Linked DNA regions of Homo sapiens: region 1 is linked to region 2. Evidence: fine-mapped expression QTL. Tissue or cell type: pancreas. Region 2 holds a variant in brackets; the other region holds the start of a gene. All regions are shown on one strand. Distances are from middle to middle.

Region 1 (8,191 bases), 50 kb after region 2:
TTCCATGTATCATTCATCTGTTGATGGGCATTTGAGTTGTTTCTATTTTTTGGCTATTTTGAATAATCCTATTATGAACATAAGTATACAAATACCTGTTTGAGTCCCTGCTTTCAATTCTTTTGTGTATATACCTAGGAATAGGATTGCTAGATCATATGGCAATTTTTTTTGTTTTGAGACAGGGTCTCACTCTCTTGCCCAGGGTGGAGCGCAGTGACACGATCACAGCTCACTGCAACCTCAAACTCCTGGGCTCAAGGGATCCTTCTGCCTCAGCCTCCTGAATAGTTGGGTGAGACTACAGGTATGTGCCACCACACCCAGCTAATTTTTTATTTTTTTCTGAAGAGATGGGGTCTTACTATGTTGCCCAGGCTGGTCATTGTACTCTTGGCCTCAAGTGATCATCCTGCTTAAGCTTCCCAAAGCACTGGGATTACAGGAATGAGCTCACAATAATTCTATGTTTAACTTTTTGTGGAACTACCAAATTGTCTTCCACAGGAGCCACACCATTTCACATTCCCATCAGCAGTACGACAGGGTTCTAATTTCTACACATCTCCACACAAAAACCAACACTTGTTTTTGTGTTTTGTTTTGTTTTTTGATGATAGCCCTTCTAGTAGGTGTGAAGTGGTATGTCATTGTGGCTTTGATTTGCATTTCCCTAATGACTAATCACAGTAAGTTTCCTTCCATGTGCTTTTAGGCCATTAGTATATTTTTGGAGTAATGTCTACTCAGATCCTTTGCCTATTTCTGAATTGGGTTGTGTGGAGTTTTTTGTTGTTGAGTTGTAGGGGGTCTTTATAATATTGATGCCTTATCAGATATATGACTTGCAAGTATTTCTCCCATTTGCTGTGCTGTCTTTTCACTCTTTTGATAGTGCCCTTTGATGCATAACAGTTTTTAATTTTGATAAAGTCCAATTTAGCTATTTTTCTCCTGTTGCCTGTGCTTTTGGTGTCATACCCAAGAAGTTTTCTTCTAAAAGTTTTATAGTTTTAGCTTTTACATATAGGTCTCCAATCAATTTTGAGTTAATTTTTATATATGATATAATGTAAGGCTCCAACTTCATTCATTTGCACATGGATATGCAGTTTTCCCAGCATCATTTGTTGAAAAGACTGTCCTTTCCTCCTTTCCCCATTGAATGGCCTTGGCATCCTTGTCAAAAATCAATGGACCATATATGTAAGAGTTTATATCTTGGCTCTCTATTCTATTCCATTGGTCTACATGTTTGTCCTTATGCTGTGTATTAGGCTGTTCTTGCACTGCTGTAAATACCTGAGACTGGGTAATTTATAAAGAAAAGCGATTTAATTGGCTCACAGTTCTGCAGGCTGTACAGGAAGCATGGTGTTGGCATCTACTCAGCTTCTGGGGAGGCCTCAGGGAGCTTTTACTCATGGTGGAAGGCAAAGTGAGAGCAGGCATCTCACATGGCGACAACCAGATAGGGAGAGAGAGAGAGAGAGAGTGGGATGGCGGAGTTGCCACACACTTTTAGATGACCAGAGCTCACTTATCACAAAGGGGATGGCCCAGGCCATTCATGAGGGATCCGCCCCCTATGACCAAAACACCTACCACTAGGACCCACCTCTAATATTGGGGATTATATTTCAACATGAGATTTGGGTGGGGACAAACATCCAAACTATATCATGCTGGTGTTTTTCATTTGTTTGTTTTTTGTTTTTTTTTTTAATAAAAGATTGTAGTGTTCTGCCATTATCCTGTCATTACATAATTCTAAAATTAAAAAAGAAACATATATCCTTATCATTGCCTGTTTCTGTCAAGCTCAATAAATGTCCTTAATGGTTCATAGTATTGTAAAATTACTGTGTCAAAAATGCTTAAGCATTTGTCAAAGGCCTCTTACTCCTCCTTTGCATTCACTGCTAGTAGGCATTGCCCTGGACTTTACTCTGATTGAGTAAAAGCCAAAGTCCTTTTATTGAAATGGCCAAGGTCCTGCATATTCTGGCCATTCACTGCACACCCACCTGACTGGCTGCATTTCCCGATTCTCATTCTTGCTTCCTTATTGTTCCTCCAACATACCAATACAGTACTCCTGCCCATAACCACCTTGTCTAAATAACAACCTTGACAGAGCAGGTGCATCACCATCATGGACAAGCACTGCCATTTTAAAGTTCCCCTTGATCAAAAACCACCTAAATCCAAACAGCATCAGCCTAATGGCTAAGGTCAGCATGACCATACACCACAAATGACATCTCCGACCAGAAACATTCCAACCCTAAGATAAACCCCTCCCTGACCAGAGACATGCGAGCCCCGAGATAACCTCCCCTCCGACAGAGACATTCCAACTTGGCAATAAACTTCTTCTCCAAACAGAAACATTCCACGCCTGTGATAAGCTCTCTCACTCTAAAATCCTTAAATACTCTTAGTCTGTAAGAGAGTGCTCCTGACCGAAATCGGCCAGAAGCCCCTCTTAGGTTTATTCTTCCAAATAACACTGTCTGACTGTTGAGCTGCTATTAGTGTTTCTTTCCTCTTTCTTTAACTCTTACAAACTCCTTGCCCCATCTCCCATAGCTCCTGGCTCAACCTCCTGAGTAGCTGGGACCACAGACATGTACCATCTTGCCTGGCTAATTTTCTATTTTTTGAAGAGTTAGGGGGCAGTTCTCACTTTGTTGCCCAGGCTGGTCTTGAACTCCTGGGCTTAAGAAATCCTACTGCCTCGGCCTCCCAAAGTGCTGGGGTTACAGGAATGAGCCACCACGCCTGACCCCTATTTCTTCATGGCATTTGTCAGTGGCTGACACCCTACGTATTTATCTAATTTTTGTTTGTTCTCCCAACACGACTGGAATGTGAGCTTTATAAGGGCAATGACTCAGCAATGAAGAATGAATAGGAAAAAATATAGCGAGTTCTTTATTCATTCATTCAAATTACTATTTATTGAGAACTTACTGTAGACTAGACACAGAAAACACTTTCGACATTAAACATATAGAACTTGTTAAATAGTTATGTTTTGTTCAGTGGTTGTACAAATCTAAAATTAACAATTAAAAGTGTGTGTGTGTTTTTTAAGGGGTGGGTGGGTAGGAAGTCTCACAGATGGCGAGTCCAGAGCAGAAGCCTTGAAGGAAAATCAAGGTGTCAAAGGCAGAGCACACTGCCCCTTAGCTATTGCTCAGTGCACCAGGGTGGAGAGCTGCTGCCAGCCTATTAGATCCTCTCTCCAGGGAATTCAGAATGTGGATTGATCCAAGCTAGTCATTCCCTACTGATCTTTCAAACAGAGGTGAGGCACGCCCGTATGGAGAGCAGTTTCTTTAGCTTGCACAAACCCTGTGTTCGTCACCAGTGTCCAGGACAGGCTGCAGGTGTGGCTGGGGACTGTGATCTTCTTGTAGGGCCTCCTTAGGGATTGTGCAACCACAAAGGCAGAAGCAGCTCTTGCAGAGTGTGATGACGTTCACAACCTATATTTGACTTGTACTATATTCTCATCACTACAGGAGAAGAGGCCCAATGGGAAATGTGTGCTGTTCTAAATATAGCACCTGCCTCCTATACCTGCTAGATTTAGGTTGAATCTTTCACTGCCTGTGAAGGACTTTAGCAGGCCTCAGTGACCGGAAAGATCTACCCACGCTTTCAAGCACAGGAAGGACGGTATTGGAAGGCCTTGGGGTCCAGCCCAGGGCTTAAAGTCAGTTCCATTGGAATGCCATTTTCAGAGAGTTTTCATCCCAGACTCTCCAAGGGTGGCAGGCTCTTGTATCAGCCCTGGGACATGTGTCCTCTAGCAGTCAGGTAGTTAGGCAGGCACCTGTCTATCAATTTGTTGTTTTTCTTCTCAGTTTTCCGGTAAGACTACCCCGAGCTCTTCAATGTTTTCTTTGCTTTTGTTTACATTGAGTGTATGACGCGGGATGGGCTTCGTAGGCTGGTTGTGGGTTATTACAGCTTCCCAGGAAGGGGAGAAACCCAATTCTTGCCAGCACGTGGTGGGCGCAGGCGCTCATAAATACTTAGGAATAAATGAATGTATAAGTGAGTGCATGAATGGGTGAGTGGACACGAAGCTTTCAAGGTGGGTGCAGGGAGGTGGGGGTGTGAAGAGCCATCGAGGCTACCCTGCGGCCCTGGCCCCCAGGCTATCCCGCGACGCGCGTCCACGCCGACCAGCGGAAGGTGCCCAGCCAGTGGGGGCGGGGCGAGCTAGCCGCGAGGACGCGCCCGCGGGGGGGCGGGGCTAAGAGGACGCGCCGGGAGCAGCGGAGCGACGAGGACAGGCCGCGGGGAGGGGCGGGGCCACGGGGGGTGCGCCGGGCGGAAGGGGCGGGAAGAGGGCGGGCCCGGCGCGCGGTAGCGCGGGCCCCTCAGTGCACAATGGCTAGAGCAGGCGGCGGAGCCCCAACCCCACCCAGTGCGGAGCGCGCCGCGAGCCCCGCCGCAAGCTGAGCGCCTCCGCCCGCCAGGCGCGCCGGCGCCGGGCCATGTACTCGGGGAACCGCAGCGGCGGCCACGGCTACTGGGACGGCGGCGGGGCCGCGGGCGCTGAGGGGCCGGCGCCGGCGGGGACACTGAGCCCCGCGCCCCTCTTCAGCCCCGGCACCTACGAGCGCCTGGCGCTGCTGCTGGGCTCCATTGGGCTGCTGGGCGTCGGCAACAACCTGCTGGTGCTCGTCCTCTACTACAAGTTCCAGCGGCTCCGCACTCCCACTCACCTCCTCCTGGTCAACATCAGCCTCAGCGACCTGCTGGTGTCCCTCTTCGGGGTCACCTTTACCTTCGTGTCCTGCCTGAGGAACGGCTGGGTGTGGGACACCGTGGGCTGCGTGTGGGACGGGTTTAGCGGCAGCCTCTTCGGTGAGTTGGACTGGGAGAAGGCAGCCTCCCCTCTGCAAACTTCCACTCCCCACCCCGCTGCCCGCTCCGTGCGTCCGCCCCCCAGCCCGCCCCGCACCGCTTCCCGCTCGGCCCCGCGCCCCCCGCCCTACACCGCCCCGCTCCCCGCTCGCCTCCTCAACGCTGCCCGACCCCAGCCGCATGGCGGGTGCCTTCCTCTTCCTCCGTCCCCTCCCGCCCCACGCTGTCCAGGACTCCATTCCTGTGGTCTCTCATCTGCCCCCCACGTTGACCCCAAACCCCGGCCCGCCTCCTTTCTTATTTGTTTTTACCTCCTAAGATCACTCAACAAGGCACGAAACCACGGCTTTTTACACTTTGAGGAAAGAGACGAGGGCCTGTAGAGTCAAGAGATTCAAGAAAAAAAGTGATTAACTCGTGAAAGTTGGAGGGAGTGATGAGATTAGATTCATGTACTACTATTTGTTTCCTAAAATGAGAGTAGAAAACCAAAATAACAATGTGTAAAAAAAAATTCTCATTAGTACTTGTAAACCTTTGAATGCTTTCTAGGGAATGAGACAGTTTCATTCAGGTCCTCAGAATGCAAATTGGCATGTGCCCTGTAAGCTGTTTTTACTATTTTCCGTCTTATAGATGGGTTCCAGCACACCAGAATCTTGGGTGAGATTACAAATGGCTCAGCCAATACCATCTCAGGTGAACAAATACTGTAATTAGCTCTGCAATCGGTAGATTTCATTAAAGTAGAACTTCATTGTTGAAGATGTATTTCGACAGTACTCTTATTATGGAAGATTTAAGTTTCACTGAGACATGATGTTTTGAAGGATGATCAACAACTCAGCAAATCATTGAAGGAAGCGTAGAAAGGAAATTATTTTTTTGTGTGCCTCAGGAATTTCATTTGTAGGGAGATTTGAAATAGAAATGTGTATTTCTCAAGGCTTAAAGTTCCTTTTTTAAATCCTGAAATCCATTGATACTTTATTGCTTTAATCTTGGTAGGTTTGGGAGAACAAAAATCTTTGTAGAATTATCAAAAATATTTTCTTATTCAGTAACCTCTATGCTATGACAAACCCAAATATTATATTTGTAATGATTCATTTTTTGGCGTTTTGAAGGAAATAAGAAAATAGATTTTATTTGATTGCTTCAGAGGTTATAATATTTTCCTCCCCGCCCCTCATAAGCTTTAATCTGATAATTTCATTTGAACAAACATTTGAAATTTAGGGAGGGGACTGCAAGTGTATGTAGGCTGTGGTATGGACGACTATGGGATTACACTCCTTATATTAATTGTAAAATACCTATCAGGCAGTTTCTTCGGCAATGCTAAGAAGGTTATTCAAGCCCAAGCCTAAAGTATCATCAGTAGTGTTCTCCAGGGTAGTCAACAGGTGTTTGTTCACAGACATCAAAGTTCTTTTTTCCTTGAAGTGCCTTTTCTGTGCTGGAAAATTCTGTTTTCGTGCCCGGGAGTTTGAACACAAGGGTGTACTGAGTTCTTTATAAGTGCTAGCTGTCATCCACCCTCTTCCTCACCTCTTTCCTCTGCTGATCCCACCCTCCTGTGTCTCCTGGTCACTTCTCCCTTCCTGTTTTTCTTCTTCACCATCCCTCCTAGGGTCCCAGCCCAGTGATTTTCTAAGTTCACTTAGATTTTTGCCTGAGGGCTGCCCTATTTTTCAGGGCATTTAGTGCTTTCAACCATGACTTTCTCCCTGTTTTTAATGTAGAGGTGGAAACCCTGAGATAAGAGATTCCGAGACTTAAGCCCTGGGGGGCAAGTTAGTAGTGAAGTTACTATAGAGTTTAAAAAGTTTTTAGCGAAGATGATTTCTTTGCCTGGAGTAAATTCCGGAGTTTGTGCTTCTAGATCCAGGTTAAGGATGAAGAAAAGGAGGGCACTTCCTGAGTTATCCCTGAGCAAGAACTACCTAACAGTGGAGTATTGAAGGGGAGGAAGTTAAAAATGAGGGAAGTAGCTTCTTGATGCAGAGGCTTTTGGAGAGGCTTGCCCTATCTGTTGGAAAGACCATTGGTCTGATGGCACAAGAGTGGATCCTGTTCCTTATCCTGCGACTCATGCATTGTGCGGGCTTTCTCAAGTCACTTAATCTCTCCAGCTATCAGTTCTCTCATCTCTATTATTGGGTAATTCAGCTTAATGCTCTGTAAGGCCATCCTACTTGCTTTGCATTTTGATGACCCCTTTGATATCTGTAGGTTAGAACGTGCCTGATCTTAGCGCTTATTGATTGTGTCTTCTGCTCCTACTCCTACCCTGAGCCCTGTCTTTCTAAGCCAAGAAGCAGCATGTACTATGGTTACACCTCTTCAGATACCATCATAGATTCAGTCTCCATCTTCACACCCTGCTGGAAGAAGCAGAATAAGTAATTCAGACATACTTATATTTATACTTGAGTGGGCCAGGCAACTGCTGCATTCTGTACTTAGTTCCTGGCTTCTTAGGGAATGCCAAAAATGAGTGGAATCCTTGATATTTTTGAGACAGAGGCTTTGACTAGACAGGACTGTTAGGATTGCCATTTTAGTTAAACTAAAGGTGTGTGCCCTATGCAATTTAATCTAAGTTCCAATTGAATGGCTTGTTTTTCCAGTATCCAGGATTATTAGTCATCTTGGGCTAGACAGGTACAGCTTGTACTGATTTATATTTCAGTAGGTTTAACAGTAGTGAAAACCAGAGCTCAAAACTGTGCAATGATGAATATTAGAAAGTTTAGCAGTATTGTTGCTTTAGCCTAAAGACTTTCAGGTGAGTATGCTCTTCAGCACCTTGGCCTTTCTACCTCTGGCCACACAGGGCATCACACAGATGTCTTCCGCACATGGAATGTAACCAGCATTATGCTCAAAGTTAACAGGAGAACCTTATTATTTTTTTTTTTTTAAACTTCCCCTTCAAAAATAAGAACAAACAGTGTTAGTCTTGGCAGAGGATGTTTAGATAGACCTTTTGCTTGGGATGCAGAGATTCAGGGTTGCAGAGACAGTGGCGAAATGCAAACATCACTGTATTCAAATGTTAGAAGTAGGTATTATTTATGTTAAGATATTTTAATATGAAATCAGAAGTTTTCCTTTTTTACTTACACTTACACACTTTTTTCCTTTATTACTTATATGCATGTGTACATTCATATAATATTTTTAATACATTTTCCTCCTCAGGGCTATTATGAGCCTAAATATTTTTAAATGGCCAGTTGTTTTACTGAATTAATCCTTTTGTAATAATCTGACTAGTAATTGAGTAGAAATAGTCTCA
Region 2 (8,191 bases):
GTGCTGGAAATGTTTGCCCTGGTAAAATGGAGGCTATAGATTTGTGTATCTTGGAAATGAACATGTTTTCTCTGGATGTTGAAGTAGAATATGTCTTCTGTAGGACTACAAGGGCATATCAATCTGCATACGTTTTCACAGTGTTCCTTTATGGTTATGAATGTATCACGAATTGCCAGCATAGTATATAATCAAATTGGATATAAACTTGCATCTATTTCTTAATTAAATGTTTCAGAAATGCACTCCTTTAAAATGCAAGAGTATAATCACTAGCAGTTAATTATATTACAGAAACTAAATGAAACTATGCAATTAATTATGCCATATAAATGATATTTGTGGAATCCAATCTGGTGTCAAGAAATGAAACTGTTTTTAATGTGCTGTGAAGGGTTTTTAATTTGTCTTTCAGTGCAATATGTTATACAGCAAAATAAACATTTCGTCCTTTCTAAATGAGTGAAAAAAAAGTATCTTTCATGAAGTCTACAATTTTCAAGAAAATCACATCTTAGAAAAAGTCACATCTTAGAGATGTGATATGCTGTTCTTCCATTAAATTTCTAATTCTGTTATTTCATTGCTTAAATTTAAAACCTCAGAATTTAAAGGAATTCTAAGTCTGTATATGCAGAGGCTATTTTTTGTGACTCTTTTTTTTTTGTATGAATTTCATTTAAACAGCTCAAGAGCACCTAAAGGACATCATGCATTTTGTTAGGGGGACAGGCTACTCACCATTTTTCCTAGTACTACTTTTAGTTGTTCTCTAAATGTAAAGGTGGGGAAGGAGACCAAGTTCTATAGCTAACAATCAATCTCCTTTCGACTCACCCATTTTTTAGATTAAAAAGCTGAAATTCAGAAAAATTTATTAGGGTTTTGAAAATAAATTTTTAAGAATGGAATTAAATCACCAGAGAAGGGTTATATGTTTTAACCAATCTTTTTTTTAGATAGGTTTATGCTCATCCTTAAGGCTAAATCCGAATAATATGGCTGTTGTTGTTGCAACAAGTCAGATTCTTGTTTGTAGCTCAGCACATTTTTAAACTAGATTTTATTTTTCAGAACAGTTTTAGATTCACAGCAGAACTGAGGGGAAGGCACAGAGATTTCCCACATACTCCCTGTCCCCACACATGCACAGTCTCTCCCGAAATCAAAATCCCACACCACAGTGCTACATTGGTTATAATAATGGACACAAGATTATAAACCAAAGTCCATAGTTTACATTAGGGTTCACAATTGGTGTTGTACACTCCATAGGTTTTGATACATGTGTAATGACATTATCCCCCATTACAGTATCATACAAAGTAGTTTCAGTGCCCTAAAATTCTCTATGCTCCCTCCCTCCCCTCAAAGCCCTGGAAACCACTGATCTTTTTACTGTCTCCACAGTTTTACATTTTCCAGAATGTCGTATAATTGGAATCATACAGTATGTAGCCTTTTCAGTTTGGCTTCTTTAACTTAGTAATATGCATTTAAGGGTCCTCCATGTCTTTTTATGGCTTGATAGCTCATTTCCTTTTAGCACTGACTAATATTCCATCATCTGGATTACCAGAGTCTGTGTATCCATTCAGCTACTGAAGATTTCTTTGTTGCCCCCAAGTTTTGGCAATAATGAATAAAGCTGCTATGAACATCCATGTACAGATTTTTGTGTGAATATACGTTTTCAACTTCTTTGGGTAAATACCAAGTAGTATGACTGCTGGATCATGTAGTAAGGGTATGTTTCATTTTCTTAAGAAACGGTCAAGCGGAATTCTAAAGTCACTGCACCATTTTGCATTCCCATCAGCAATGAATGAGAGTCCCTTTTGCTCCACACCCCACCAGCATTTGGTGGTGTTAGTGTTCTGGATTTTGACCACTCTAATATGTATGTACTGGTATCTTATTTTAATTTACATTTCCTTCATGACTTAAAGTGTTTTGCATCCTTTCTTATGCTTATTTCCCATCTGTGTATCTTAGTATTTATTCAGATCTTTTGTTTATTTTTCAATTGGGTTGTTGGTTTACTTATTATAAAGTTGAAATAATTTTTTGTATATTTTGGATAACAGTCCTTTATCAGATATGTCTTTTGCAAATACTTCCTTCCAGTCTGTGTCTTGTCTTCTCATTCTCTTGGCAGAGTCTTTTGCAGAGCAGAAGGTTTCAATTTTAATGAAGTACAGCTCATCAATTATTTCTTTGTTCTAGAACCATTTGTTAAAAAGAATATCTTGCTCCATTGTATTCCCTTTGCTCCTTTGTCAAAGATCTGTTGACTATATTTATGTGGGTCTATTTCTGCTTTGTTGATCTATTTTTTCCATTGTTTTACAATACCGCACTATCTTTATTACTATAGCTTTATGTCTTGACTTGTCAGTCCTATGATTTGTTTCTTCCTCTTCATTATTGTGATGAATACTCAAGACCTTTTGCTTTTCCATATAAATGTTAAAATGAACTTGTCAAGATTCACAAAATAACTTCCTGAATTTTGGGTGAGATCGCATTGACTCTACATATCAAGTTGGGAAAAACTGGTATCTTGACAATAGTGAGTCTTCTATTCATGAACGTGGAATATCTCTTCATTTAATTCCTTGATTTCTTTAATTGGAGTTTTGTGGTTGTCCTCATTTGGATCTTGCATATTTTGTTAGACTTATACCTAAGTATTTCATTCTCAAATGCGAATGTAGATGGCATTGTGTTTCTTTTTTTTTTTTTTATTTTTTTATTTTTTTGAGATGGAGTCTTGCTCTGTTGCCCAGGCTGGAATGCAATGGCACAATCTCGGCTTACGGCAACCTCTGCCTCCTGGGTTCAAGCAATTCTCCCACCTCAGTCTCCCAAGTAGCTGAGATTATAGGCACCCACCATCATGCCTGGCTAATTTCTGTATTTTTGTAGAGACAGGGTTTCACCATGTTGGCCAGGCTGGTCTTGAACTCCTGAGCACAGGTGATCTGCCCGCCTTGGCCCCCCAAAGTGCTGGGATTACAGGCATGAGCCACTGTGCCCAGCCTATGTTTTTAATTTAAAATGCCACTTGTTAATTGTTAGGATATAGGAAAGTTATTGACTTGTATATAATAACCTTGTATTGTGCAAACATGCTATACCTGATCTTAGTGGGAAAACTGTCCAGTACTATAGATGATGTTAACTGGAGGTTTTTTGTAGATGTTTTTTACAAGTTGATGATGTTCCCTCTATTCCTACTTTGCTAAGTGTTTTTATAGTAACTCCTGTTTTCTTTTGATAAGTGTTAGCATGGTATATCTTACCCTATCCCTGTACTTTTAATCTATATGTGCCATTATATTTAAAGTGGGTTTCTTATAGACAACATAGAGTTAGGTCTTGTTTTGTGATCACTCTGACAATCTCTGTCTCTTAACTACTGTATTTAGACCATTGACTTTTAAAGTAATTATTGACATAGTTGGATTAATATCTACTATATTTGTTATTGTTTTCTATTAATTGCTGCTTTTCTTTGTTTCTATTTTTGTCTTTTACTCTTTTTCTGCCTTTTGTGTTTTAAAATAAACACTTTACATGATTTCATTTTCTCTATTTTCTTAGAATATAAGTTACACATTTTTTAAAAAACAATTTTTCGTGGTTGACCTATCATTTGCAATATACATTTACAACTAATCCAAGTCCACTTTCAAGTAACACTGTACTACACAGGCAGTACAAGTATATTAAAATAAACAAAAATCCTAATTCCTTCCATTATTTGTATTATTGCTGTCATTTATTTTGCTTACACATAGCAAATATACCATATATACATACATATATGTTTATATGTGTATATATTGTGTATATAATTGAATACATTGCTGTCATTATTATTTGAACAAATTATCTGTTAGAAAAGTTAAGAATAACAAAAATAACAATTTTTATTTTACCTTTACTTTTTCTTCCTCTGATGCTGTTCTTTTCTTTATATAGATGCAAGTTTCTGACTTACGGCTTTTCTTTCTCTCTGAAGAACTTCTTTTACCCTTTCTTGAAAAGCAGGTATACTGATAGCATATTTCCTCAATTTCTGTTTGTCCGAGAAAGTTTTATTTCTCCTTCACTTTTAAAGGCTAATTTCACGGTATACAGAATTCTAGGCTGGTAGGTCTTCTAACACTTTAAATATTTCACTCAACTGTTCTTGCTTATGATTTCTGAGGAAAAATCACAAGTAATTCTTGTCTTTGCTTTTCTACAGATAAGTTGTTTTTTTCCCCTCTGGCTCATTTCAAGTTTTTGTTTTTTTTTTGACAGAGTCTCCCTCTGTCGCCCAGGGTGGAGTGCAGTGGTGTGATCTCGGCTCACTACAACCTCCGCCTCCCAGGTTTAAGCAATTCTCCTGCCTCAGCCTCCTGAGTAGCTGGGATTACAGGTGTGCGCCA[C/A]CATGCCCAGCTAATTTTTGTATTTTTAGTAGAGACGGGGTTTTACCATGTTGGTCAGGCTGATCTCTAACTCCTGACCTTGTGATGCACCCACCTTGGCCTCCCAAAGTCCTGGGATTACAGGTGTGAGCCACTGCGCCCAGCCAGTTTTTTTCTTTATGTTTACTTTTCTGCTGTTTGAACATGATATGCCTAGGTATAGTTATTTTTTGGCATTTATCCTTCTTGGTGCTTTCTGATATTACTGGATCTGGGGTTTGGTGTCTCATTTTAATTTGTGGACATTCTTAGTCATTACTTCAAATGTACCTTTTCTTCCTTTCTCCCTTTCTTCTTCTGGTGTTCTCATCACACATATGTTACACTTTTCACAGTTGCCCACAGTTTTTGGATATCCTATGGTTTTTTTTGTTTTGTTTTGTTTTTTCAGTTTTTTTCCTCTTTGCTTTCTGTTTTTGAATCTTCTATAAATTCTTTCCTCAGCTACGTCCGGTATACTAATGAGCCCATCAAAGGCGTTACTCATTTCTATCAGTGTTTTTGATCTTTAGAACTTTTTATTCTTAGAATTTTCATCTCTCTGTTTACAATGCCCGTCTGTTCTTGTCTGCTGCCTGCTTTATCCGAGCCCTTAGCCTGTTAATTGTAGTTGTCTTACATTCCCATTCTGATAATTCCAACCTCCTTGCCATGTCTGCATCTGATTCTGATGCTTGTTCTGTCTCTTGGAGTTGTAGTTTTTGCCTCATTAATTTTGATGCTCTGTTGTTAGGTGCATCTGCATTAAGGATTGTCAGAGCATCTTTAAGAATTGACCCCTTTATCATTATGTAATGCCCTTCTTTATCCCTGACAATTTTCCTTGCACTGATATCTGTTCTATATAAAACTAGCATAGCTTCTTCTGCTTTCTTTTGATAAGTTTTAGCATAGTATATCTTTCTGCATCTTTTTATTTTTAGCCTATATGTGTCTTTATATTTAAAGTGTGTTTCTCATAGACAGCATATAGTTGGGTCTTGTTTTTTTGATCACTCTGACAATCTGTTTTGTGCCTTTTAGTATGCCTTGTAATTTTTTTCTTGATAGCTGGACATGATTTACTGGGTAAAGGGAACTGCTATAAATAGGCCATTAGTAACATGTCAGTAAGCTGTGGGGGAAGGTGAATCCTGTGAGTAAGTCTCCTTCTTTTGATGAGCCTGTGTGTCTGGATTGCGAATTTCACAAGTGCTTGTCAGTCTTCCTCACCCTCCCTCTTAGGTGCGACCAGAGGTTAGAGTGGATGTTTTCCTTCCCTCTGTGAGTTATTCCCTGACAAAGTTCCAATAGCTTAGACTCTGATAACATAGTTTCTCTTGAGGGCATACCTTGGAAAGAACAACATGTTCTGGCACGTTTCAAAATGGTGCCTTTTCCTTCCCCTCCGCCAGAAGTAAGAGAGAATTTTTCACTGATACTCACTTTAAGAATCTGTTGAACTCCTGGAAGTAAAACTCACAAAAGCATAGGGGCCCCTATGACTGGGCACCCCTGGAATTTTTAACTCTAAAATTGTCCATGCTGAGCACTTGTCCATTACAATTTAGGTTTTCCTGCCCTATACTGGTTATTCAGGGGGTTCCTGCCCATGAATTTCTGCTCCAGTAAGTTGTGATTCCCAGTGTTTGCCCCTCTGTCTCTCCAATGTGGGGGCAACAAAACTGCCTTGTGACCTTACTTCTCTGATGGATCTAAGAAAAATTATTTATTTTTTAGTTTGTTACATTTTTACTTGTTAGGATGGAATGGCAACTTCCAAGCTCTTTACATGCCAGACTGGAAGGCAGCCAGGAGTCTCGATGAGCTTTTCTGAGACATCTTTATTAGGGTATGTAATACCCCAATAGGTATCATAACATTTGCATATCATAAAATTCACTCATTGTAAGCGTACAACTCAATAATTTTTAGTAAATTTAGAGAATTGTGTAACAATCAACAGTCGCCACAATAAGTTTAGAACATTTTCATCACCCAAGAAAGTCCCCTTGTGCCCATGTGGGATCCCTGCTTCTACCACCAGTCCTAGGCAACCACTGATGTACTTTCTGTGTCTATAAATGTGCCCTTTTTTTGATATTACATATAGATGGAATCATACCATATGCAGTCTTTTTGTCTGGCGTCTGTTATTCAGCTTAATGTTTTTGATATTCATTCATGTTGTAGCATACATCTCAATGCAATTTTAAAACCCCAAATTAAGATACAATATCGGTTTTCTAGTTATTAATACATATTTAACCAGATTGAAAATAAGACAATATTCAAATGAACCTTTCTATGAGGATGCCAACTTGTATATTACACATGAAACATGATTACTGGTCTACAGATCATACTCACAAGCTCTTGGTTAGCCAACTGACCTGTAAGAATGATTTTAAAATTATAAAATTTTACCAACAGAACTATATTTTGAAATATGTTATAGATGCACTCGTATTGATTAATTTCAGTAGATGATAGAAATAAACAACAAATGGGCACAGTTGATGTTAGGACACGTCATGTTCAAATTTGCATAAGTGGCTTCAATTTCTTCCTGAGAAATCTAATTAACCTTCCCAAACAAATGGAATAGTTAATGTCCGATTTTTTTAAAGCCAGTTTGAAAGTTTCAAAGCTGTCATGGTTTTATCATTGTAAAAAGCTTGAAATTCACAGACTGTTCATGTATATAAATTACTATACTTACAAATTATCCTCGAGTCTCTTCAAGGATTCCAAAACTAATGAATGATTACTGTCTAAGGAGCAGGATCCAAAACAATTTAGGGCTGAAATATATCTAATTTTCATAACCCAGTCATTATGTAGCTTCCTTTTAACACTGGGGATTAAGAAAAGGCAGGGGAGATTTATGTTAGACACACAAACGTATAATATGTTTCTATTCAGCAATTTACTTTGACTGTAACTGAATTGTACTAAACCCAAATGTAGAATACAGCCCAATGCATTATAACACCTTTTTTTTTTTTTTTTTAGATGGAGTCTTGCTCTCTCGCCTAGGCTGGAGTGTGCAGTGGTGCGATCTCGGCTCACTGCAACCTCTGCCTCCTGGGTTCAAGCAATTCTCTTGCCTCAGCCTCCCGAGTAACTGGGATTACAGGTGTGCACCTCCATGCCCAGCTAATTTTGTATTTTTAGTAGAGACGGGGTTTCATAATGTTGGCTAGGCTGGTCTCGAACTCCTGACCTCAGGTGATCTGCCTGCCTCGGCCTCCCAAAGTACTGGGGTTACAGGCATGAGCCATTGCACCTGGCCCACTTTTAACTGTTTATTTATAATCAAGCATACTTAAAATGGAAAAGTAACTTTAAAAGACTCTTCAAAATTTGAGCTGTGAATTCAGAATTAAAAGAACAATCTAGAAGAATCCCAATTCAATAATGGCACTATTGATTTTATTTTACTAGAAAATTTCTAATGATCCAAATGGAGCAGTATGCTTCATATTCTTTTATATCTTATTTGAATCAATCCATCTGAAAATATATTTTCCATTAGTACTTTTCAAACTGAAGTACTGGGCAATGTAAAATCTGAGATCACTGGTGAAGCTGAGTGGGGGATAGTGATAATATTCCTTGTCAGAGTGTTGGCCATCAGTTCACAAAACATTTGAATGTGGGGCTTAAGGTTACAGACAAAACCTCTGCCTCAAAATTCTGTCTTCATGGTGTTATATTTACCAATATTTAAT

Evidence for each region. PIP is the estimated chance that this variant, and not a neighbour inherited with it, causes the effect.
Region 1: CHML starts here. The variant in region 2 is fine-mapped to the expression of CHML in pancreas (GTEx, PIP 0.96).

What each region holds. Positions count from the first base shown.
Region 1 is chr1:241,636,578-241,644,768 of GRCh38, reverse strand. CHML (CHM like Rab escort protein) reads left to right here and starts at 4,400. Exons shown (of 2, transcript NM_001381853.1): 1 at 4,400-4,887. OPN3 (opsin 3) reads left to right here and starts at 4,400. Exons shown (of 4, transcript NM_014322.3): 1 at 4,400-4,887. The coding sequence starts at 4,515. RefSeq lists silencers at 4,071-4,650, 4,981-5,030 and enhancers at 4,133-4,702, 4,703-5,273.
Region 2 is chr1:241,686,584-241,694,774 of GRCh38, reverse strand. WDR64 (WD repeat domain 64) reads right to left here. Exons shown (of 28, transcript NM_001367482.1): 8 at 7,180-7,314. All of the region lies in intron 1 of LOC124904603 (a long non-coding RNA gene), which reads left to right. Among named protein-coding and RNA genes, the nearest start is that of WDR64, 38 kb to the right of the region's middle. The variant C/A (reference allele first, on the strand shown) is at 4,440.